Linked DNA regions of Homo sapiens. The protein of the gene in region 3 interacts with the protein of the main gene of each other region in a biochemical or structural test. Each region holds a gene or a part of one and is shown on either strand. Other genes may lie near its edges. The genes, in order: ERC2, MAF, MYB and ZMYND11.

Region 1 (6,318 bases), on a different chromosome or scaffold from region 3:
GTAAAAAAATACAAAAATTAGCCAGACATGGTGGCATGTGCCTGTAGTCCTAGCTCCTTGAGGGGCTGAGCTAGGAGGATTGCTTGATTCCAGGAGGTCGAGGCTGCTGTGAGCCATGATCACACCACTGCACTCCAGCCTGGGTGACACAGCAAGACCCTGCCTTAAAATAAAAGATATGTATATATATATATACATACATGCACACACGCTCTATTGGATGTACAAGTCTAGACAATTCATCAGAAGGGGACTCTGCAGTATATGTGAGACTTCCCACTCTATATCACATCCGAGAGGGTCAAGAAAGGCTTCTTGGGAAGACATGACATCCAAGCTGAAACTGAGGAATAAACAGGGATCGATCAGATAAAGAGCTGGTGTAAATCATGTTAGATAGAGAGACACGCTTGTGAGAGGGGGAGAAAATAAATTTTTAGGGCTGCAGAAGCAAGCTCAGCTTTGGTGGAACATAAAGAGTGGAATGTCAGCGTTAAGTACAGGACTGCAGAGAGAGAGGCCAGATGGGGCCTCGCCAGTATGGCCAGGAGTCCATCAGTCCTGCATTCTCAGGGCAACGGGATTATAAACAGGGTTGTAAACAGGAGTTGTAAACTGTAAACGGGAATGCACTATGGACTGGATGTCACCATTGAAATGGCGCTGTTGTTGGCTGCTGCGTTGAAAGCGCAGAGTTGGGTGCTGTAAGAGGAAGCTGGAGAAGGGTAAGGGCCGCTGTGACTGTCCAGGTGAGGGAGGACTGGCCAGGGATCATCTCACAGTGGGTGGCAGCCCAGATTGGCTCATTGCTGGAAGCCAGGATTCGTTTTTTATTTTTATTTTTAAAGCATATGCTTCTTTGCCCCCCCAGAAGGGATCATCTGCATTTCTAAATGCTGGCGGTGTCACTTGAGGTTTCCTTGTTGTTTTTCTTTTTTTCCTTAAAGCCATTTAGGCCTCCTGGTGAATGGATTGTTCGATTGAAAGAATGGCTACACTTTTTGAGAATTCTCTTGTCTCCAGCATAAACCTTACCCAAAAGCAGTTTGCTGCAATTGTGGGGCATTGTATTCTGCCTTGTGACCTGCTGCCCAGCTGGAAATCTTTCTCACAACTGAATAAATGACTGTTCTTTGCTACTTTATCTTGGAAAAACATCAAGGACATCAGACATTCACTGTAATTATTTTTCATCTGTAAAACAAAACAAAACAAAAGACTGGTGCATTTTAATACTACTTAGGGTTTCTCTTTACCTTTTAATCATGTGGCCTTTTAATATATTGGTCAGCCCTTTAAAAGGATGATTAAGAAATGCTTAATGCACAAAAGAATTAGAGCTATGCACAGCTCATGAAACAGAAAGCGTGCTCTGACTTACAATTTTCATACAAAGTTTGCAGAGAGTTTATGTGCCAGAATGAGTAATATGATCTGCTCTAGGAACTCCCTAACTTTCTGGCTCTGCAAAAGTCATTTTTTTGCCCCGATTCAAGTTTCTTAACCAGAAGGGTTACACCAAAGTCCTCAGAGTATGAATTAGCAGAGTTCATCCAAGCCACATATTTCATTTGCACTACTTAACGATGGCTTGAAATAGCTGGCTACCTGTGCAGACACTGGGATCTTTGGCATTCTTGTTAGTCGGCGTGACTCGAAAAATGCTGCATATCAACCACCAAATGAGACAGCTCAGGATATATATACAAGGTGACTTGTGTGTACACGAGTGTGTGTGTGTATGTTTGATCTTTCCTCTCCCTGCCATATTTCCCAGATAGCTGAGCTCATGTGGCTGGAAACCCAGAAGCACTCACAGGCCATATGTGAATGATAATGGCACAGGCACACAAAGTTGAGCATCAGCAGGGAAGAAAGTCCTCATCTGAAGCAGTAGTGTGGGAGGGATCCCCCTTCTCACTCATTGCACTATTGCTTCCCAGGATGCAGTTGTATCCACACTCTGGGCCCCTCACTGGGACAGTGAGAAACCTTGGGGTGCTTCTGGATACCTGTTCCCCAGGGCAGTAAATAGACAAATGGATGACTGTCACATTTATGTTTGGTTGGTTTTTAAGTGCATGCTAAGTTCTCTGATATCTTAACCACCTTTAATTCTTTAATCTCCATAAAATCAAGTTAAAAAATAATTTTAAAAACATCATCATTGTAGAAAAGCGTAGAGAGAATAAAAGTTGACATATAGTCCGATTATGTGGAAATAATCACTGGAACATTTTGGCATATTTCCCTTCAATTTCCTTTTTTGTATATCAAGAGACATTTATACATATACGTGACATATTTTGAAAGAGGCCTCTTCTCAGATGCACTTGCAGGACGTAGTTTATCTTTCTGTTTCCTTTGTCCTTCCTCTGTGTTTCTTCCCCTTACCCCCTCCCCACTCCCACCCAACCCCAACCATTGAGAGTGGTGGAGAGGCTGTTGTAGGGGTGAAGAGTGGGAAACGTTCTGCCAGGATTATCTCAGATATTGTTGCCAGTTTCTTCCCCTGCTAAATTATGTGCTTTCTTGTTGCAGCTATTAGAAGGGCTGAATAAAGGGAACATGCAGCTCTGCAGCAATATTCTGATAATGTATTGCAGTGCGGCTCACATCACTGTCCACCACCACCTGGAGCGGCTCATCAGAACTGAAGGGGAGTTTTCACTTACCTTATTGAGCGTGATTCTGTTCTACTTGATATTTCCTTCACCACCTCATGTCATTTCTCATGGATTTGGTTATGATGGAAAGGAAGAATGCAGAGGAGGAGAAAAGTGACAGATCCTCCATTTTTGTTGGGATGCGGGCATTTTGAATGTGATCATCTTTGCTGAATGTCATTATTTGATAACATTTTGTTTATGTTACTTAAACATCATTGGATAAATTTGAACTCCATGGGATTTTATCTGTGGATTCAGCTTCTGTTGGACAACTAGCCTCATCTCCAGTATCCTGCTGGTTCACTCTAATTGGTCATTCCTAATGCATTAGATTATCAAAAAGTATAAATTCGCTGTGAGTGAGTGGTGTTGGCAGTGTTTGTATACCATGATGCATGGAGTGTTTGACGAAGAAACAAAAAACACCAAAAATTGCGAGCCTTTACCCTCCTCTATTTCTTTAATCTGTTGTTTGAAGAACCGCATTTTGAGGGTGTAACCAGTAGTCACCTCTGGGCCAGGTTGGAAAAGAAATCAATTTTTTAAACCACTAATGCTTGCCAAGAAATCGCCTTATGAGAACATGGTGTGTGTCTCTGACAATGCGTGGCACATCTAAATTGATCATTCATAATTTTATCTACCCAGTCATGTACTGGAGAGTGGCAAAAGTCTGAGGCACCTGCATATCTCTAGTCCCTGTGTTCTGCACATCCCCACGGTGGGGACGCCACCAAGCCTCAGACTCTTACCATCCCGGTGCATGCAGGTCTCCATGAAGAAGCTGGGACTCATTCACATTTCAAGATCCAAATGCTGTGCAAACAGTGTAAGCTTAGATTTTCTGTAAATGAAGGGTCATTTCTCTTTTTTTTTTTTTTTAAAGAAAATGTGTCTGCAACATGGATTCCAAAGCATTTTCAGCATCAAACATGAAAACATTGATGAATGAGGAACAATCACAAAAGCTGTGTCTCTGTATATAGCTCTACACAACATGTATGTGGATACAGTCATTATTTAAAGCACATGCCAGGGAAAAAGACCAAATTTTGAGGTCTTTTACATACAGTGATATGGTACTAAGGAGAATTAAACTCCTACTGCTTCCTCTGAATATTAAGAAACAATTTAAATTGTTATAACTTCATAAAACTCATGACTGAGTCTGGCAAACATGTGCAACTCTTGTATTGCTCCATTTTCTTGTCAATGGAAGAAACCCTTCCACGTGTATGCAAGTGGGAGATGAAAACCTGCATTTTTAAAGGACAAACAGTGAATTTAAGCATGAGTGGCCTTAATAAATATAGTTGTCTTTCTTTGCTGCTGTGGAAAGGATTCTAAACAGATGTCCCTGAAGTCTTGCATTGAATTTAGTCATTATTATTACTTTTTAAAATGTTGGTGCAATTAACTCTGGACCTCTCTTGTGAGCCATAGAGATATTTAAAAGACAAACACCTTATTTGTCGGGGAAGATGAAACCGTCCCTGAGTTGCACCATTCTTTCTTGGTGCATTCGCGGTTAAGATACTCAAGCAGGTTTCTTGCTTCTGGCTTTGTTCTTGTCATCAGTAAGTATAACAAACTATGTAATGCTTATGTGTTGCATAAACAATCCAAATGCATTCATGTTTTAAAAGTTTGTCCTTTAACTATCAGAGGGATCTAGGTCTTGGTTAGAGAAGTAAGCAGAGTTCTTTGCAAGCTTATTTAGCACATTTTGACACAATGTTGCACTGAAAACCCAGGCCACAAATGTGTCCCAGTGAACAGTTTGGATGTCCTCAAAGAAGTGGTTCTCACTGCCTCCTACAACCAGGTCTTGACCTGAACTCTGCAACTGAATACTTGAAGTAGGAAGTAGGAAATCCAGTAGGGAAAATAGGGTCCTTGAAACAGAAAAAAAAAACCAACCCATGTATAGCTAGCTATTTCTATGTATGTGCCAATTTTGTCACAGCTCTTGTTTGGAGGGATCATTTTCTGCCCAACTTTCATTGGTTAAAATATTACTGATCTTACCTTTATGAGGTCGTATAATTTAGTCCCTTAAAAATTAAATTCTCTCTAACATAACAACCTTTCCCATTTCGTGTAATATTCTCTGATGTTTGGGGGTTACCAAAAATATCCCTTTTTCACATATTAAGAATAGTCTCTGGGTTTACAACAAACACTGTGATGTTGGGAAGCTATTTCCTTTGCGCAAACTTTAACAGGTTTTCTTCTAATCATAACATAGTTGAAAAAAGAAGTTTGGGCTAACATTTAGGAGAAGTTGGTCTTACTTTGTGCAAAAGCAGGCTTGTGCTTTATACCCCATTTGATTTCGATGTACAGTCTCAATTTTGTATTTAATGATTTTTGTGTATCCAGTATGCACGTTAACAGCGTGTCAACTTTCATTTGAAAGTGGGTTTCAATTTACTTTTTAAACAGTGTTTATGACGAGACCTCAGATGTGTTGACGTAAGCTCTATCTGCAATGTTTTTGTGTAGAGTGGCGATTGAATGCTGCCCAGGGTCAGTGTATCTAATTCCCCGAGACCCTCGTTTGATAGTGCTTCTTGTAATATTTCTTCAAGTGAGTGGCATGTGGGTTGTGATATTGACCATGTGATTATGGACATCGATATGAAAAATAAATAAATAAAACTAAGGAACCCTGGAAACTACCAGTGGGCATGTATTAGCCAGTCATTGTAACCTCGTGTCTAGTAGAACAATGTACAAGGTATGTACAGTTCATAAATTTGTTGTCATGTGTATGAGAAGTACTTTGTGCTGATCGCCTTATTTATATTCATCAAATAAACCTTGTTTCTTTCTGAAGTGAGTTCATTCTATCTCTAATAAATGCTCCAATTGTGCAGTTTCTAACATTTTGAGGGTCATGGATCCCCATTTGAAGAACCCTATGGACTTAAGTAAAAAGGGAAGTCATTGGCTCATTTAACTGGAAAGGCAAAGACGTAAGTCTTCCTTTATGTACAACTGGATCTAGAGGTTCAAATTAGAAAATCAGAAGTTCACATTAGGAAATTTAAGTTACTGTCATTGTCTCCCTTCTTCCTTTCTTCTTTCCTTTCTCTTTTTACCTTTCTCTTTCTCACTCTCTCAATCTCTTCCTCTGTCTCTCCTGATCCCTCCCTCTCTTCCTCCTTCTCATCTTTTGTCTCTTCCCTTTTTCTTTCTCCCTTTTCTTGTCTCTCCCTCCCTCTCCCCTTCTTCTCCCTTTCCCCTCCTTCTTCTCTCCCTGTTTCCCTCTGCACTTTCTATTGGGTTGGCTTTGGACTCTGGTAAGCTCTCTCCACTTGGTTGTAAAGATGACTTCCAACAGCTTTGAGTACTTTTGATTTTTAGAGGAGAGACTAACTCTCTGAGCTACATCTACATCTGTCCCCTAAAGGGACACTTGGTGATTCTTTTTTGGATCATGCAAACAATTACCTTTTTCAAGGCCATGTGGTTGACAGCCTCACTGGTGGGGGTGGGGGGAGCAGTTTCCAACAAGGGAAAATGGATTCTATTCTAGAAGAGAGGGACAAGAAAGCTAGGCAGGCAAAAATACTAGCTAGCCCTGCCACCACTTGGATACACACACAATCGTCCATGCAAGGGCTCACCAGCCTTCACAGCGTGT
Region 2 (5,061 bases), on a different chromosome or scaffold from region 3:
TTCATGTGAAACGTTGATCACCTTTGAAGCCTGCATCATTCACATATTTTTTCTTCTTCTTCCCCTTCAGTTCATGAACTGGTGTTCATTTTCTGTGTGTGTGTGTGTTTTATTTTGTTTGGATTTTTTTTTTTAATTTTACTTTTAGAGCTTGCTGTGTTGCCCACCTTTTTTCCAACCTCCACCCTCACTCCTTCTCAACCCATCTCTTCCGAGATGAAAGAAAAAAAAAAGCAAAGTTTTTTTTTCTTCTCCTGAGTTCTTCATGTGAGATTGAGCTTGCAAAGGAAAAAAAAATGTGAAATGTTATAGACTTGCAGCGTGCCGAGTTCCATCGGGTTTTTTTTTTAGCATTGTTATGCTAAAATAGAGAAAAAAATCCTCATGAACCTTCCACAATCAAGCCTGCATCAACCTTCTGGGTGTGACTTGTGAGTTTTGGCCTTGTGATGCCAAATCTGAGAGTTTAGTCTGCCATTAAAAAAACTCATTCTCATCTCATGCATTATTATGCTTGCTACTTTGTCTTAGCAACAATGAACTATAACTGTTTCAAAGACTTTATGGAAAAGAGACATTATATTAATAAAAAAAAAAAGCCTGCATGCTGGACATGTATGGTATAATTATTTTTTCCTTTTTTTTTCCTTTTGGCTTGGAAATGGACGTTCGAAGACTTATAGCATGGCATTCATACTTTTGTTTTATTGCCTCATGACTTTTTTGAGTTTAGAACAAAACAGTGCAACCGTAGAGCCTTCTTCCCATGAAATTTTGCATCTGCTCCAAAACTGCTTTGAGTTACTCAGAACTTCAACCTCCCAATGCACTGAAGGCATTCCTTGTCAAAGATACCAGAATGGGTTACACATTTAACCTGGCAAACATTGAAGAACTCTTAATGTTTTCTTTTTAATAAGAATGACGCCCCACTTTGGGGACTAAAATTGTGCTATTGCCGAGAAGCAGTCTAAAATTTATTTTTTAAAAAGAGAAACTGCCCCATTATTTTTGGTTTGTTTTATTTTTATTTTATATTTTTTGGCTTTTGGTCATTGTCAAATGTGGAATGCTCTGGGTTTCTAGTATATAATTTAATTCTAGTTTTTATAATCTGTTAGCCCAGTTAAAATGTATGCTACAGATAAAGGAATGTTATAGATAAATTTGAAAGAGTTAGGTCTGTTTAGCTGTAGATTTTTTAAACGATTGATGCACTAAATTGTTTACTATTGTGATGTTAAGGGGGGTAGAGTTTGCAAGGGGACTGTTTAAAAAAAGTAGCTTATACAGCATGTGCTTGCAACTTAAATATAAGTTGGGTATGTGTAGTCTTTGCTATACCACTGACTGTATTGAAAACCAAAGTATTAAGAGGGGAAACGCCCCTGTTTATATCTGTAGGGGTATTTTACATTCAAAAATGTATGTTTTTTTTTCTTTTCAAAATTAAAGTATTTGGGACTGAATTGCACTAAGATATAACCTGCAAGCATATAATACAAAAAAAAATTGCAAAACTGTTTAGAACGCTAATAAAATTTATGCAGTTATAAAAATGGCATTACTGCACAGTTTTAAGATGATGCAGATTTTTTTACAGTTGTATTGTGGTGCAGAACTGGATTTTCTGTAACTTAAAAAAAAATCCACAGTTTTAAAGGCAATAATCAGTAAATGTTATTTTCAGGGACTGACATCCTGTCTTTAAAAAGAAATGAAAAGTAAATCTTACCACAATAAATATAAAAAAATCTTGTCAGTTACTTTTCTTTTACATATTTTGCTGTGCAAAATTGTTTTATATCTTGAGTTACTAACTAACCACGCGTGTTGTTCCTATGTGCTTTTCTTTCATTTTCAATTCTGGTTATATCAAGAAAAGAATAATCTACAATAATAAACGGCATTTTTTTTTGATTCTGTACTCAGTTTCTTAGTGTACAGTTTAACTGGGCCCAACAACCTCGTTAAAAGTGTAAAATGCATCCTTTTCTCCAGTGGAAGGATTCCTGGAGGAATAGGGAGACAGTAATTCAGGGTGAAATTATAGGCTGTTTTTTGAAGTGAGGAGGCTGGCCCCATATACTGATTAGCAATATTTAATATAGATGTAAATTATGACCTCATTTTTTTCTCCCCAAAGTTTTCAGTTTTCAAATGAGTTGAGCCATAATTGCCCTTGGTAGGAAAAACAAAACAAAACAGTGGAACTAGGCTTCCTGAGCATGGCCCTACACTTCTGATCAGGAGCAAAGCCATCCATAGACAGAGGAGCCGGACAAATATGGCGCATCAGAGGTGGCTTGCGCACATATGCATTGAACGGTAAAGAGAAACAGCGCTTGCCTTTTCACTAAAGTTGACTATTTTTCCTTCTTCTCTTACACACCGAGATTTTCTTGTTAGCAAGGCCTGACAAGATTTAACATAAACATGACAAATCATAGTTGTTTGTTTTGTTTTGCTTTTCTCTTTAACACTGAAGATCATTTGTCTTAAATAGGAAAAAGAAAATCCACTCCTTACTTCCATATTTCCAAGTACATATCTGGTTTAAACTATGTTATCAAATCATATTTCACCGTGAATATTCAGTGGAGAACTTCTCTACCTGGATGAGCTAGTAATGATTTCAGATCATGCTATCCCCAGAAATAAAAGCAAAAAATAATACCTGTGTGGAATATAGGCTGTGCTTTGATTTACTGGTATTTACCCCAAAATAGGCTGTGTATGGGGGCTGACTTAAAGATCCCTTGGAAAGACTCAAAACTACCTTCACTAGTAGGACTCCTAAGCGCTGACCTATTTTTAAATGACACAAATTCATGAAACTAATGTTACAAATTCATGCAGTTTGCACTCTTAGTCATCTTCCCCTAGCACACCAATAGAATGTTAGACAAAGCCAGCACTGTTTTGAAAATACAGCCAAACACGATGACTTTTGTTTTGTTTTCTGCCGTTCTTAAAAGAAAAAAAGATAATATTGCAACTCTGACTGAAAGACTTATTTTTAAGAAAACAGGTTGTGTTTGGTGCTGCTAAGTTCTGGCCAGTTTATCATCTGGCCTTCCTGCCTATTTTTTACAAAACACGAAGACAGTGTGTAACCTCGACATTTTGACCTTCCTTTATGTGCTAGTTTAGACAGGCTCCTGAATCCACACTTAATTTTGCTTAACAAAAGTCTTAATAGTAAACCTCCCCTCATGAGCTTGAAGTCAAGTGTTCTTGACTTCAGATATTTCTTTCCTTTTTTTTTTTTTTTCCTCATCACAACTAAGAGATACACAAACTCTGAAGAAGCAGAAATGGAGAGAATGCTTTTAACAAAAAAGCATCTGATGAAAGATTTTAGGCAAACATTCTCAAAATAAGAGTGATATTCTGGATGTAGTTATTGCAGTTATCTCATGACAAATGAGGCCTGGATTGGAAGGAAAATATAGTTGTGTAGAATTAAGCATTTTGATAGGAATCTACAAGGTAGTTGAATATAATAAGCAGGTTTGGGCCCCCAAACTTTAGAAAATCAAATGCAAAGGTGCTGGCAAAAATGAGGTTTGAGTGGCTGGCTGTAAGAGAAGGTTAACTCCTAGTAAAAGGCATTTTTAGAAATAACAATTACTGAAAACTTTGAAGTATAGTGGGAGTAGCAAACAAATACATGTTTTTTTTTTCTTACAAAGAACTCCTAAATCCTGAGTAAGTGCCATTCATTACAATAAGTCTCTAAATTTAAAAAAAAAAAAATCATATGAGGAAATCTAGCTTTCCCCTTTACGCTGCGTTTGATCTTTGTCTAAATAGTGTTAAAATTCCTTTCATTCCAATTACAGAACTGAGCCCACTCGCAAGTTGGAGCCATCAGTGGGATACGCCACATTTTGGAAGCCCCAGCATCGTGTACTTACCAGTGTGTTCACAAAATGAAATTTGTGTGAGAGCTGTACATTAAAAAAAATCATCATTATTATTATTATTTGCAGTCATGGAGAACCACCTACCCCTGACTTCTGTTTAGTCTCCTTTTTAAATAAAAATTACTGTGTTAGAGAAGAAGGCTATTAAATGTAGTAGTTAACTATGCCTCTTGTCTGGGGGTTTCATAGAGACCGGTAGGAAAGCGCACTCCTGCTTTTCGATTTATGGTGTGTGCAAGTAAACAGGTGCATTGCTTTCAACCTGCCATACTAGTTTTAAAAATTCACTGAAATTACAAAGATACATATATATGCATATATATAATGGAAAGTTTCCCGGAATGCAACAATTAGCATTTTAAAATCATATATAGGCATGCACATTCTAAATAGTACTTTTTCATGCTTCATTGTTTCTCTGGCAGATAATTTTACTAAGAAGAAAAATAGATATTCGACTCCCCTTCCCTAAACAAATCCACGGGCAGAGGCTCCAGCGGAGCCGAGCCCCCTGGTTTTCTCGTAGGCCCTAGACGGTGTTGCATTTATCAGTGATGTCAAACGTGCTCATTTGTCAGACATAGCTGTAAATGAAAACAATGTGTGGCAAAATACAAAGTTAGTTAAATACACACCCTCTGTGTGATTTTTTGCTCCCTTTTCTTTTTTGCTCCTACTCAAAAAAAAAAAAATCACCTCCTTTACATTTCCCTGGCTTCTTGCATGTTTCCCTTTTCAAAAACCATGTAATAATTTTTTACAATGTATCTGACACATTAATATATTGACATCAAATAGGCAGACATTCTACTTTTGCCTGGCAAATAAATCTGCTACGGAGACATCATTTCCTCACTGTCTCAAAGCCATAACTACCTGGGAGTCTTTCAACACAGACCCCTCCGATGGGAAATGCTGTTTATTACTGAATGCAGGATGCTCACGCTCTGATCTTTTCTCCCTTGTGCCTTTACCCCAGTCATTTTTACTTAGCAACACCAATTCTAGATACTTCTGTTCTGAAGTAGAACCACCCCCTTGCCACACTGCCAGTTTTCCTGCTAAAAGCAGTGGACAGAAGACAGATCATGGTCACCCTCACAAACATGGCACACAGCTGTCTCGGTAGCTG
Region 3 (7,661 bases):
GTTTTTAAATAATGTCAGGGTAATAATGCTTTCTTTTTAATGAACAAGGCAAGAAAATGACCTCATTATGAGGGATAACTATGGAAGCTCATTTTGTCCCATTTTTCCCACTTAAGTAGTATATAACAGATTTTGTTCCTTTGGAAAGCAATACTTTTAATGATAAATCTTGCATTAAAATGATGTAGATCAAAAATATTAAAAATAGTTTTATTCTTGAGCTTCATAATCCAGGAGAAAGTTTATATAGTATTCTCTAGTGATGCTCCAAAGCATTTGCACCCTTGTGGTTCAGTATAAACTTAGAAATTTTAAGAGGTTGGTAAAAAAAGGCCTTTCCTCCCATATGGCCTGAGAGGATACACTGCTGATTCTTCTCAAAATTAACAGGGCTATTGAACTTCCTCTTTCTTTAGCATACATTCCCCCACCCCCATTGAAATAGAAAAAGGGAGACTTAAACGGTTTTTTTGAATTGAGAAACTGTTTTCCTGAGAATGGAAAGACTTTAGTAAAAATGCGTTGCCTTTTGAAAATATACTGGGGGTTAGGATCTTTCCCTTTGGGATCCCATTTTCCACTCTCGTCTCTGTCTGATTCAGAAAACAATTGGGGTGGCTTTCAAAGAGTAGGAGGTTTTTTGGTCTCAGAAGTTCTCACTAGTGCTTTGAGAGATAAAGAGTGAAGTATTCTTCATCAGCAGCATCTTATCATCCACCAGACTTCACCATGTCCCTCTCGTGGTGTGTAGGCCCTGCTGTGCCACATTCAAAGGAGTAATTTCCCCAAGGCAGCTGGAACTTTACATTGTGTTGGAGTCTTGTACCGCGACCGGTCAGAATAAACATGAAGCGTTATCGTATTGAAAATACTCCTTTACCAAGGAAATGGAATGGTTAAAAGATACTGATATTTCTAGAAAACGACATGCATTCCAGATTGTGTAACTAAGAGAAATCTAACTAGGCAATAGAGAAAGCCTGATCTCAGAGGGTGGAGAAGAAGGAAACAATTAAAAAGAGAAAACAACTAATAGGCCCAAGGGAAAGGTCTCTGTTAGAAACAGTTTTCTGTCAATTCACTTTAATCTGAATTGAAATTTTTGTTTGTGAAATTTGTGTGATATATTTCTGTGCAGAACTGATAATGCTATCAAGAACCACTGGAATTCTACAATGCGTCGGAAGGTCGAACAGGAAGGTTATCTGCAGGAGTCTTCAAAAGCCAGCCAGCCAGCAGTGGCCACAAGCTTCCAGAAGAACAGTCATTTGATGGGTTTTGCTCAGGCTCCGCCTACAGCTCAACTCCCTGCCACTGGCCAGCCCACTGTTAACAACGACTATTCCTATTACCACATTTCTGAAGCACAAAATGTAAGCCATTCCTGTGAATCTAGTTTAATGAGAGAGACGGTTAGTTTAGCTCCAGGTAATAATCATACTTTGCAGTTGTATACTTTTCAGAGAACTTTCCTGAGCATGATCATGGCCAGTCTTCACCTATGCCCTTTGAAGTAGATAGGGTGTAGGTATGGTGTGTTACCCCTGGTTTATGTCTCCAGAAACGAGGATGGTAAGCGCTTTGCCCAGGGTGACACAGCTCATAGAGATAGTGCTGACTAGAAAACGAGCTGTCCGATTCTAAATTGCTGCTTCAAATCTAATTTGAAGGCAACCTTTGAATGTAAATTTACTTAAGGTACTATTGAAGAATAGGGGAATGGAGTCGCATTTGTAGATGTAATGTTTTTCTCTTCCAAAACGAAAAGGGAAGGTAGTATTATGTTTAAAGAGGAGAGAGTTTGACACTGAAATTCAGTGGTTATGGTATGTTTCATTCTGGCAGTGATCAGGCAGACATGTCTTAATTTATTCACTCAGTAAGTGTTTACCTTCTTACTCTGAGTCAGGAGCAGAACTTTGTGACATTCATTTTCTGATGTCTCCTTTTAGTCTCCGTTGGATCAGTGTGATCCCTTCCTTATTTCTAGATATTTATATTTAGGGAAAGTGATAATCCATAATAGGTGGAAAAAGAAGAAGAAAGAGGAAAAAAATCGAGAAACTTTAATCTTAAGAATAACAATATTAAATGATAAAACTTACCCAAGAATAGAGAGCTCATATGCAAATTATATGCAAAACATGTTCATAAATAGTTTTTATTCTTCTCTGTCCATGGATTTGACTACAAACTTTACAGAAAGGTCTCAGATGAATAAATTATCATAAGAATTCCTGTGCTTTTTATTAAAACTCAAAATTATTCCAAGAAAAATATTTTTATTTACAAACAGCTGGTGCCATCAATTTTTCCCATAGAAACAATTTTGAAACATTCATTAATGTATTTTATAATATATTTTTTATTGTTTTTTTCATTGTGTTTTTCTCTAATTAAGGAACACTTCCCAAAATTTAAAGTGCTCATCAACACCTCCCAAGGATTTTTCACCATGTTCCTTTAGCTGTTTAGCCATTTTAAAGGCCTGGCTAAATTTCACATTAAAAGGTTTTAAAAATTTGTTTAGTGTATTTTATCAGTAAAGTGTTTTTTTTCTCTCAGTCCCAGAACGAAACCTCAGGAAGCCAAGTCCCCTGAAGCATATGTAGCCCTGAATGACGTGGCCTTTGTTTTGTCTTTTGCATCTAGGTCTCCAGTCATGTTCCATACCCTGTAGCGTTACATGTAAATATAGTCAATGTCCCTCAGCCAGCTGCCGCAGCCATTCAGGTAAGATCATTGATCATTCACTGTTCAAAGCACCACTTTTAAGAAATGCTTATTTCTTTCATCTAAACACATATTTTTACCTGAGCAACTAAAGTAAAAAGGAAAGGGAACATGGAGAGGAGAGCAGAGTCTTGGCCAGCAATCTATTAATCTTGTCTTCTAGAATGAGTTTGCTCTGGAATTTTCTGATTCTTTGATGTTGCAAGGTGAAATAACTCATCAGTCAGCATCCACTCTAGCCTGAGATTTCACATCACTCCCTTAAGTCTGAAATAACATTCACAAAGATTTCTGCAGGAGCCAAATTTGGTTGGTGGTGTTGTCACAGTGAGGCTCTTTGGGCTGTGCGGCACCTCATGACCATATTGGCTACACCCATTGTATTTGCAGCTTCCAATCAGACCTTTGTCTTTATTTCCCTTACTTTGTAATTTCAGAGACACTATAATGATGAAGACCCTGAGAAGGAAAAGCGAATAAAGGAATTAGAATTGCTCCTAATGTCAACCGAGAATGAGCTAAAAGGACAGCAGGTGCTACCAGTAAGACTGTCATCATGTGCTTGAATGAGGGGATAGCAGCTTTGCCTCAGTTTACCTAAGCGCTCTTCTCTTCTAAATATTACACTTAGCAAGGCTCCATATATCCATTCAGAATGTCTCAACACAAGAAGTTGCTTGTAGTAAAATGTAGTTGGTATCAGATTATATGCTGATTAAATTGGAAGCAGTCTTTTTGTAATTGCAATAAAAATGCAATATCCACTTATGATTGTTATCATCAATTTTTTTCTTCAGAAGGACTATAATCAGTTTAAAGACTAGCAAAGATAAAATGAATGAAAATCTGCATTTTCTACAGAGCTATGTATCTATATGGTACCATTTTGGTTTTTTTCTATTATTTTGTTAACCTATATTTTCATATTTTATAATTTCAGACATGATTTGATGCATGTTCAGTATATACATGTAAAAGGTTATATATAAAACCTCTTCATAAATAACATTAGCTGCTCTCTTTTATTTGCATGTGTGAAAGTTATGTGGGCCATTACTGAATTCTGACATCTTTAGCGACTGGGCAGCCAACTGGGATGGCTCCTTGTGCTTTGCAACATACATAGTTAACCAACAAAGACAATAAAAGAGAAGTGATGCCCAGTAGGTATTCCTAGGGGTAAATTTATTTTTTGTTAAATAATAAGATGTTTATGTGCACATGCTAGTTCGACCACTTTTTAACTTTAGTTAATGTTTTGCAATTTCTCCTGTTGTGTGGTCATACTGTAAGGAGACTTCTGTTAATTTGCTCTTCTGCTTTCCTAACCACGTTGATTTGGCAGTGCTTCACTGCATCAGTGCAATCTGTAGCATTAGAAAGGGATAGAAGCAACAAGAATATGTGTAGATCAAAGCAACTCTAACTCCTGAGTCCTCTAGCTTTTTTGTGGTTAGAATGCAAATAGGACAGTTCTTCAGTTCTTCACTCACAGCAAGCATTTATGGACCTTTGGCAAATTATATTAAAGTGGAATTTTAAGACAATATGATAATTATACTTCGAAATATAGACCTATGATTTGACATTTTTACAAAATGATAACAAGGTAATCATATAGGTACAACCTCTAGCACTATTAAAAACAGGGTCTTGCATTGATAAAAGGAAACATCTTGACAACTGTTTCATAGGCGTAAGTTTGGGATGATGCAACTACTCTTATCTTTCCTCCAACAGCATCTGATACCTTGTGCAACTTCATTGCTAAGTTCCTTCTCCCTTTCTTCTGTCCTCTCTTTATTTCTACACCCTTCCCCCTTCCTTAGACACAGAACCACACATGCAGCTACCCCGGGTGGCACAGCACCACCATTGCCGACCACACCAGACCTCATGGAGACAGTGCACCTGTTTCCTGTTTGGGAGAACACCACTCCACTCCATCTCTGCCAGCGGATCCTGGCTCCCTACCTGAAGAAAGCGCCTCGCCAGCAAGGTGCATGATCGTCCACCAGGGCACCATTCTGGATAATGTTAAGAACCTCTTAGAATTTGCAGAAACACTCCAATTTATAGATTCTGTAAGTAGAATTGTGAAGGGAAGTTAACGATTCTGGAAGATAAATTAGAAAACCCATTTCTTAAATCATTGCCATTTTCTATAGCCAAGCTGTTATTAGCATATATTAATGTAAAGGTAGAAGTATGATTTTCATCTTCATGAATATGTTTTTTCAAAGATCTGATTTCATAGCCTACCGAGAGAGACAAAAGTATTTATAAATACTTACAAAATAGGACTTTTGAAGGAAGAGTTTTTTTTCACATTTTCACACTTTTCCTTCAAAAGTCATATTTTTAAAAATAGTCAGATTGATGACTTATAAAGCAGAGCTTGGATTATGGGAACGGAATGGTGTTTGAGTTACTTTTAACTTTTTTTTTTCTTTGCTTACTTCATGGTGCTTCTCTAGAATTTTGTCTTGCTTTTGAACAGCACATTAATGATTTGGCTTACTCAGAGCTGAAAGCAATCTTTTAGTGTATTTGAAGTAATAATCAGCTCCTTGGTCATACCTGGCTCTTTCCACAAAATGGTGATTATTGATTACTGGTCCCATTGCTTCACTGAGATGAATCATCTTTCGTGAAACAAATTTGTATTCAGCACCTCCTCAGCGAACACTTGGTTCCTTTCCCAGTTGATTAAAAATCATTTATTGCACACTCATTGGTTAGGAGATGACCATTGCCGTAATATGCCATCTAGAAAAGGTCTTCATTTTGCTTTCCATTGCATGCAGATGTAGAGTGTCGGGAGGTCCCTGCAGCACATCAGAGGGCCAGCCTTGAGGCAGCCCACTAGACCCTGCTCTACTGCAGTATAATAGAGCAACTGCTCATCTTGAAGCTGTTGCTCAAGAAGCCAAACCAACGGGCCTAGTGTTTGCTTTGCGTTGAGCATCTCTCTCTCAGTGCTGTTTCAGGTGATGATGGCACACACTATCTCAAAGTTCTGTGCCTCCCACATTGTTTCAGGATTCTTCATCATGGTGTGATCTCAGCAGTTTTGAATTCTTTGAAGAAGCAGATTTTTCACCTAGCCAACATCACACAGGCAAAGCCCTACAGCTTCAGCAAAGAGAGGGCAATGGGACTAAACCTGCAGGAGAACCTAGCCCAAGGGTGAACAAACGTATGTTGAGTGAGAGTTCACTTGACCCACCCAAGGTCTTACCTCCTGCAAGGCACAGCACAATTCCACTGGTCATCCTTCGAAAAAAACGGGGCCAGGCCAGCCCCTTAGCCACTGGAGACTGTAGCTCCTTCATATTTGCTGACGTCAGCAGTTCAACTCCCAAGCGTTCCCCTGTCAAAAGCCTACCCTTCTCTCCCTCGCAGGTAGAACACAATTTCTGCACAGCTGTTACTCATTTTCAACAGACACCTGAGCCTTAATAATCTAGAAACTAATACTTCGGAACAAATGACTAATTACTGCTGCCTTTGCTGATTTCATTCTGTCGTTGAATCTAGCTGTTGCTAAGTTATACTGCCTCCCAAAGTTTAGGCTGTCTGCAGGCTAACTGTTGATTTTGGCATCATTCTCTCTCTTTTACTTTTGGGTGGTTTTGAAAGATAGTTGCATGAAACGTACTTTTATTTCCTTCAACACTAGAGTTTAACATTTCTGTCCCTTTCTTTTTCTCCCATCTGATCCCTCCCTTTAAAATTGTTAACATCATTTCTTCCTCGTTGTTCATTTATTCTTATGCGATTCACTGACCCAGGGGAGGAGGGAACCAAATTGTGTTTATATAACATTTGGGTTGCAACTAGAAAATTTAAAGCTAGAAAATTTAAAGGTTCCAATTCATCTTTAAATGGAAGAGTTTGGGAAGAGGATGAGAAACAAATGCTTAAGGAAAAGAACATATTTTTAATTTCAGTTTCTCAACATTGGCTCTTTTGAGTTGTGCCATACTATTTTACTAGTGCAGTTTTTGCCAAGGAATATTTTTATTTCATACAGCTTTTTTAAGGCATGAAAATCACAATTCTTATCAGAGATTTGTGTTCCTAAATTATTTAAATAATTAAATTAATAGATAATTTGGCACTTTAAAACATTTTTCCAATTGTATCTGTTGAATTTGTTTTAAGAACAGATTTAGGTATGATATAGGTATATACATTTGGGAAACACTGAATCAAACAAAGTTACAAGTAGGTTTCTTAGCTGGGCATAGTGGCATGGGCCTGTAGTCCTAGCTACTGGGGAAGCTAAGGCAAGAGGATTGCTTAAGCACAGGAGTTCAAGTTCAGCCTGGTGAACATAGCGAGATCCCATTTCTTTAAAAACTTTCTTTTTTTTAACTGCAGGCCTTCTCAGAGTTATTAATATGCCGTTGTGCCTTGTGAATTTCCAGGAGGAGATTATGATATGTTGTGTTTCCCAAATTTATTTTACCTTGGAATTGTTTAAGGAACACCTAGTTTTTTCCCAGAACTTTAGTGTTCTGAGAGACACAGTTTATTATTCAAGAATTTTCCATATAATGTAAACCTTCTGTAATACTAATTTTGGTTCATAGATTATTAAAGAGAAAAAACAAAGTATGAAAGGAAACTATTAATTATTAACTATTATTTTCCCCAAAATCACTAAAGCCTTTTAAATGTTAATAAAGAACACATCTCATTCTCTTTAATGACAAGTGTCATTTATTGAGAGTATTTTCTCACAGTTTTGCAAGTTTTTCAGCAATGACCCTAAATTTTATTTCTTGGAAACCACACCCAAATCCTGGGTGCTCAATTGAAATAAAACAATACCCTAGTCAATATAACATGCTTGTTAGCATCTTTATTATTTAATATAGTGGGTCAGGAAAACATTCTTGTTATCTAGGTGTGATTTTTAA
Region 4 (5,344 bases), on a different chromosome or scaffold from region 3:
GAACACAATTCTAATAATTAAGGTCTAGAATCAGAGTTGGCATTTCATAAAATAACAAGTGACACTTTTTTTTTTTTTGAGATGGAGTCTCGCTGTGTTGCCCAGCCAGGCTGGAGTGCAATCGGGTGATCTCGGCTCACTGCAACCTCTGCCTCCCAGGTTCAAGAGATTCTCCCGCCTCAGCCTCCCAAGTAGCTGGGATTACAGGCACCTGCCTTCATGCCCGGCTAATTTTTTTTGTATTTTTGTACAGACAGGGTTTCACCATGTTGGCCAGGCTGGTCTCGAACTCCTGACTTCAGGTGATCCACCCACCTTGGTCTCCCAAAGTGCTGGGATTACAGGCATGAGCCACCACGCCTGGCCGACACCTCATTTTTGAGGACCAGTAAGCCTGTTGCTTAGGAAAATATATCTAGAAGAACAAAGACAAAATGAGGGTGAATAGAATGATACTACTACTACTGTTGGAAACTTTACAATCCTACAGGAACTGGGACTTTAATATTCAGACCTAAACCATCTGATCCCAGTTGTGATACGTCTATCACATGAATGATGAATGATGGCATGAATGATGAAAACCAGAGTACCGACTAAGGCTGGGTTAATGTTGGCACTAAGACCTGGGGCTGGTCAACTACCCACAACTACCATACCAAGAAGTAGATGAAAACAGCAGAGGGTTAGCCTCAGCTGGCCTCCAATTAAGAATCTATTCCATTCTGAGTTGTGTATCTGTTTTTCAGGCTGATTTGCAATAATTGATATGCAGCTGATATAATAATCATCCTCTCCTTATTATATCATGTATGGTCTTTTTGAGATCTGGTGAAAGTAAATTCAATTTATACGTTTAAGTGAACAAATGATGTTTAACACACTGATTTTATATAAAGTTAAGCAGTCACTAAAGAGTGACCCACAGTATGTGATCAACATTTAGCGACGGTAGTATTTGGTTGGGTATAGGGGACTACACTAAATAAACAAATTACTAAAGCTAGTTTTTTTTAAATACATTTATTAACCAATGTTAACACATTAAATGAATCTATATATTGCTAGTCAGAGCAGCTTACAAAATGCCAGAATGCATCATAGAACTGGACAGCCACAATGAATAATTACAATGTGCATAGTGGCTAAGCTCAACACCTCGATATAGCTTTATGATTTGCAGAAAATTTTTAATAATGATTCCTAAAACAATCAATTGTAATTTTACCTAAAACTTTTACAAAACCAGGCCACAATCTCTTTTTTTAATTTTGTTTTTTTTTAAACACACAGTTTTCACGCTGTAGTAACTTGGAAATGTGCAACCGTGTCAACAGAGACAGAAAAGCCAAAGTAACACGAATCTCACTTTCATGCAGCTATCAGTTAAATATTACATACTCTGGAATGATTTTACACCAAAAATATTTCCACAATTACTTGCTCTCATAGGGGTGGATCGAAGTCTTAAAACTTGAAAAACAATCAAAGAAGGTTAAGTGTTCTCGGTTCTGACATCTCCATCAGCGCCACACACTGTGGCAACACTGACTAATTACACAGCAACAAGGAGGGAACGATGATGCCAAGTTACTGCATAATTTAGGTACATTGTATGAAATGGGGCTACTGGGTACTTTTTACAAAATATTGTGCACCATTTGGCAGTAGTTTGTCAATTAACTTGTGTCACCACCATCTGCAACAGCATCAAGATTAGATGGATGATATTTCACAGAAGACTTAGTTACATTTTTATCTTTAGAGTGACCCTGACAAACCTGGAGAATACTTTTTAAAAGGCTTTTCTCCTGATTCTTTCACTTCCATTGTGAGTAATTGCTTTAATAAATATCAAAGGTCTAAATAAATATGTACAAATTATTCTCTAACCTCAAAAAATAACTAAATGATAAATGGGAATTTGACTTGGTCTAAGATCAGTCTTTAAAAATACCACATAAATTGTGAGATATTTTAAAAGAAAAGTAATTTAAGTTTTCCTGGCTGTATTTTATATATCTATGTATAAAAAATCATTATTCAACTATCGATCCATTCCTATTGGTAATGCTTCTTAATCCAGACATTCCGCAAAATACAGACTTTTTACAAATCACGGCATCTTTAATACAAGAAAATTAACATGCATTATTCTTCATTCTGTGTACAGTGATGGAGTTCATTAGTAGGCAATGACCCATTACTACAAACATAACGGCTTCTGTGAAACTTAAGTGCTTTCTCTTCTTTTAGTATTAACTTACGATACATGAGGTGACACCAGATAATAGGCAGTGAGATGATATGTGGGAAGGGAAGGGAAGCATTAAACAAATTCGTATGCCTCATCTATAATTTCACATATGGATAAAGGTAGTTTTTGGCTTTGTTTTTGTTGTTTATTTTGTTACAAGCACTCATGTTAGGACAAAGATGAAATGTGCAAACTTTAAAATTTAAATATTCATTTTCTCTAAGATCCAGCTCAGTAAAAGATTACCCCAGTTCCCTGCAATTTTAAACTACAAGATCAAAGCTAATAATTTGTTATAAAAGTTATATATTGAAAAGAAATAATGAAAAACACAATTGGGAAATATTTAAGAAAAAATATGCAGGACTAGCCCTGCTGTGTCAACCCTGTTCCCTAAATTCAATCATATACCCACTGGTGTGACCAACAGATAATGCCTTTGAACAGTAAATTAAGCTGAACAAAACCAGCTCAACAAGGTTAAGAAAAAAATGTCACATCAAGGTAGTATGTTTTATTTCTGAAACAGTTCTGTAGTTCTTACATTCAGATCTATTCTAAATGTTTCTTTGTTAAACTCACTTGTATTCACCTGTTTTTTAAAGATCTGTTGTTTAAAGGTTAAAATCTCTGTAAAACCTAAAAATGTTTTAAAATTTGCTGAAAATGCAACAAATTCTCAATTAAAATTTATTTAAAATAATACCCTCCACTGATGTTACTTTTACCCCCTGAAAAACTTCGGAGGAGCATTAACAAAAGATTTAAACTACTGTGCAAAATTTCTTCACGAAAAGTGTTTAAAGGCTGGTGCAAAATGGGAAGCAAATTCTAAACAATTTTGGCTTCTTGGAAACAAAAACCGCTGTGTCTGAAAAGAGTAATCATCGGGGTGACTCCGGGAAGGGCCAGCTTCATCTTTTCCGGCGGCAGGTGCGCTTGTGCTCCGCGTGCCAGTGCTCCTGCTGGCACTTGATGGAGCAGTAGGATGTGTTCCAGCAGCAGTGGTACATGGCCTCCTCCTCACAGTTGTAGCACTGCAGGTAAGAAATCGGGGCAGTCTTTAGACTTGGGTGTGGATGTGTAAGCGACTGGTTAAAATGGCAAACTCTTGAGGTGGTGCTTTTAAAAGATCTTTCTGGCTCAACCTTTTGTGGAATCTGAATACGTTTTATGCACAGCAGATGGAAAGGGAGCCCTGGGGATGACTGCAGCTCATGCCTGGTTGTCAGCAAACTCAAGCTGCTGTCAGGTGGTACCTGACACCTCCCGTTTTTTCCATCTCTGTGAGAGTCATTCCCGTTTCTTTTCTTAAAATGCTCTTGACTTCACATCCCTTTCCAGCTACCACTTGCATTTCTCTGCTCCCCACAAGCTCCTTGAAAGACTTGCCTAAACTCCCTATTTCAAATTCTTCTCTCGTCGTTAACATACGCTGCAGTCTTTACTCATACCATGCCACTAATATGCTGCTAGCAGGGTCACTTACAACTTCAAATCTAGTGGCCAAGTCTCAGTCTTCATCTTATTTGGCAATGTCTGGAGATATTTTTGACTGTCACAACTTAAGGGCAGAAGGTACTACTGGCAGACAGAGGCCTGGGATGCTGTTAAACATCCCACCATGTACACCTCCCCCAAAGAATGTTCTAGTGCAAGGGTCCATATACCATGGTTGAACTCTTTGGTCATGGGAGAAGAGAAGAGTGAAAAAAGTAAAGCTAAAGTTCCAAGCTGGGTTGGTGAACTAACAGTAGTACCATGAACAGACACCCACAGTGAGGCAAGGAAGATGAGAGACCTTCTGGATGTAAACAAACACTTGACAACAGGTCAGTATAAATATGAAAGTTCTGTAGATAGACACATGCAGATCTGACGGCTGTTGAGAGCCCTGGAGGAAGAACCCAGGGAGACTAGCCTACATTTGATACCTAAACATTCTAATTTCCTTCCTGTGTATTGTGTGCATTATTATCCATTATGTCAGCAAGTGCACCTTCAGAAAAATCCCCATTAGGTGCAGAGTCAGTTTTGGAAACGGCTTGGATGAGGCGTGTCGGGATTCACATCTGGGGTCTGTGCCACCCACTGGTCATGTGGCTTCAAGTTATTTAACTTCTTAGTTTCCTCATCTTTCAGACTTTACACAGCACCACCATCCCTTCTCCCAAATACCCTATTATTTCGTTTTCAATTTCTCCCTTTCTGGGGATATATTTAATGGATACATCTATCTGTGTTTCTCGTGACATCCATTATTCGGCATCTGGCATACCTACATGCTTTCTGTCCTATAATACTACTCTATTTCTTACAACAATGTAAGATGTAATTGGGAAGAAAGAATTCTTGATTCTTTGAGAGTGAGTCTCGCTCTGTCGCCCAGGCTGGAGTGCAGTGGCACAATCTCAGCTCATTTTGATCTCTGCCTCCTGGGTTCAAGAGATTCTTCTGCCTGAGCCTCTCAAGTAGCTGGGGTTTCAGGCACACACCACCACGCCCGGCTAATTTTTGTATTTTTTGTAGAGATGGGGTTTCACCATGTTGCCCAGGCTGGTCTCAAGTGATCTGCCCACCTCGGCCTTCCCAAGTGCTGGAATTACAGGTGTGAGCACCGAGCCTGGCCGAGAAGAAAGAATTCTAACCCTTTTACTAGAATGTGATGAGCACAAAAAGCTCAGCTCTGCCAACTAGGTTTTTAATCATTCTATTTAATCTCATAAGCCTCAAATTCTTCATCTTAAAGAAGAGTACAAAAATACCCACTTTAGCTGTTTCACAAATGGTAAAGTGCTACAAAAGACAGTATTATAATTATAGCCTCTTCTTCCCATTTTCTTGATTCTTTAGTAAACTTAAGAGATTTCTACTCATAAGAATTTTTTAAGAGACAGGGTCTTGCTCCATCGCCCAGGCTGGAGTGCAGTGGTGCAATGACACCTCTCTGCAACCTTGCACTCCTGGGCTCAACCAATCCTTCCACCTTGGCCTCCCAAAGCACTGGGACTACGGGCATGAGCCACTGCACCTGGCGTCTTTGGGTGTTGTGCTTCTGTTATCTTCAGCACACCTTAATTCCCATCT

What was found.
Region 1: the proteins of MYB (region 3) and ERC2 form a complex in vitro, tested with the Homo sapiens proteins (one study listed by BioGRID).
Region 2: the proteins of MYB (region 3) and MAF form a complex in vitro, tested with the Homo sapiens proteins (one study listed by BioGRID).
Region 4: the proteins of MYB (region 3) and ZMYND11 form a complex in vitro, tested with the Homo sapiens proteins (one study listed by BioGRID).

Annotation. Positions count from the first base shown.
Region 1 is NC_000003.12:55,507,500-55,513,817, reverse strand, and holds the end of ERC2 (ERC protein 2), read left to right. Parts: intron 1-2,541; 3' UTR 2,542-5,507; downstream 5,508-6,318. UniProt on the Homo sapiens protein: Thought to be involved in the organization of the cytomatrix at the nerve terminals active zone (CAZ) which regulates neurotransmitter release. Seems to act together with BSN. May recruit liprin-alpha proteins to the CAZ.
Region 2 is NC_000016.10:79,593,338-79,598,398, reverse strand, and holds the end of MAF (transcription factor Maf), read left to right. Parts: exon of another isoform or gene 1-3,845; coding exon 3,846-3,939; 3' UTR 3,940-4,561; downstream 4,562-5,061.
Region 3 is NC_000006.12:135,191,186-135,198,846, forward strand, and holds part of MYB (transcriptional activator Myb), read left to right. Parts: intron 1-1,138; coding exon 1,139-1,373; intron 1,374-2,652; coding exon 2,653-2,733; intron 2,734-3,170; coding exon 3,171-3,275; intron 3,276-3,774; exon of another isoform or gene 3,775-3,896; intron 3,897-4,562; coding exon 4,563-4,817; intron 4,818-5,540; exon of another isoform or gene 5,541-5,723; intron 5,724-5,775; coding exon 5,776-6,138; intron 6,139-7,661. UniProt on the Homo sapiens protein: Transcriptional activator; DNA-binding protein that specifically recognize the sequence 5'-YAAC[GT]G-3'. Plays an important role in the control of proliferation and differentiation of hematopoietic progenitor cells.
Region 4 is NC_000010.11:250,298-255,641, reverse strand, and holds the end of ZMYND11 (zinc finger MYND domain-containing protein 11), read right to left. Parts: intron 3,295-5,344; coding exon 3,172-3,294; 3' UTR 1,005-3,171; downstream 1-1,004. UniProt on the Homo sapiens protein: Chromatin reader that specifically recognizes and binds histone H3.3 trimethylated at 'Lys-36' (H3.3K36me3) and regulates RNA polymerase II elongation. Does not bind other histone H3 subtypes (H3.1 or H3.2).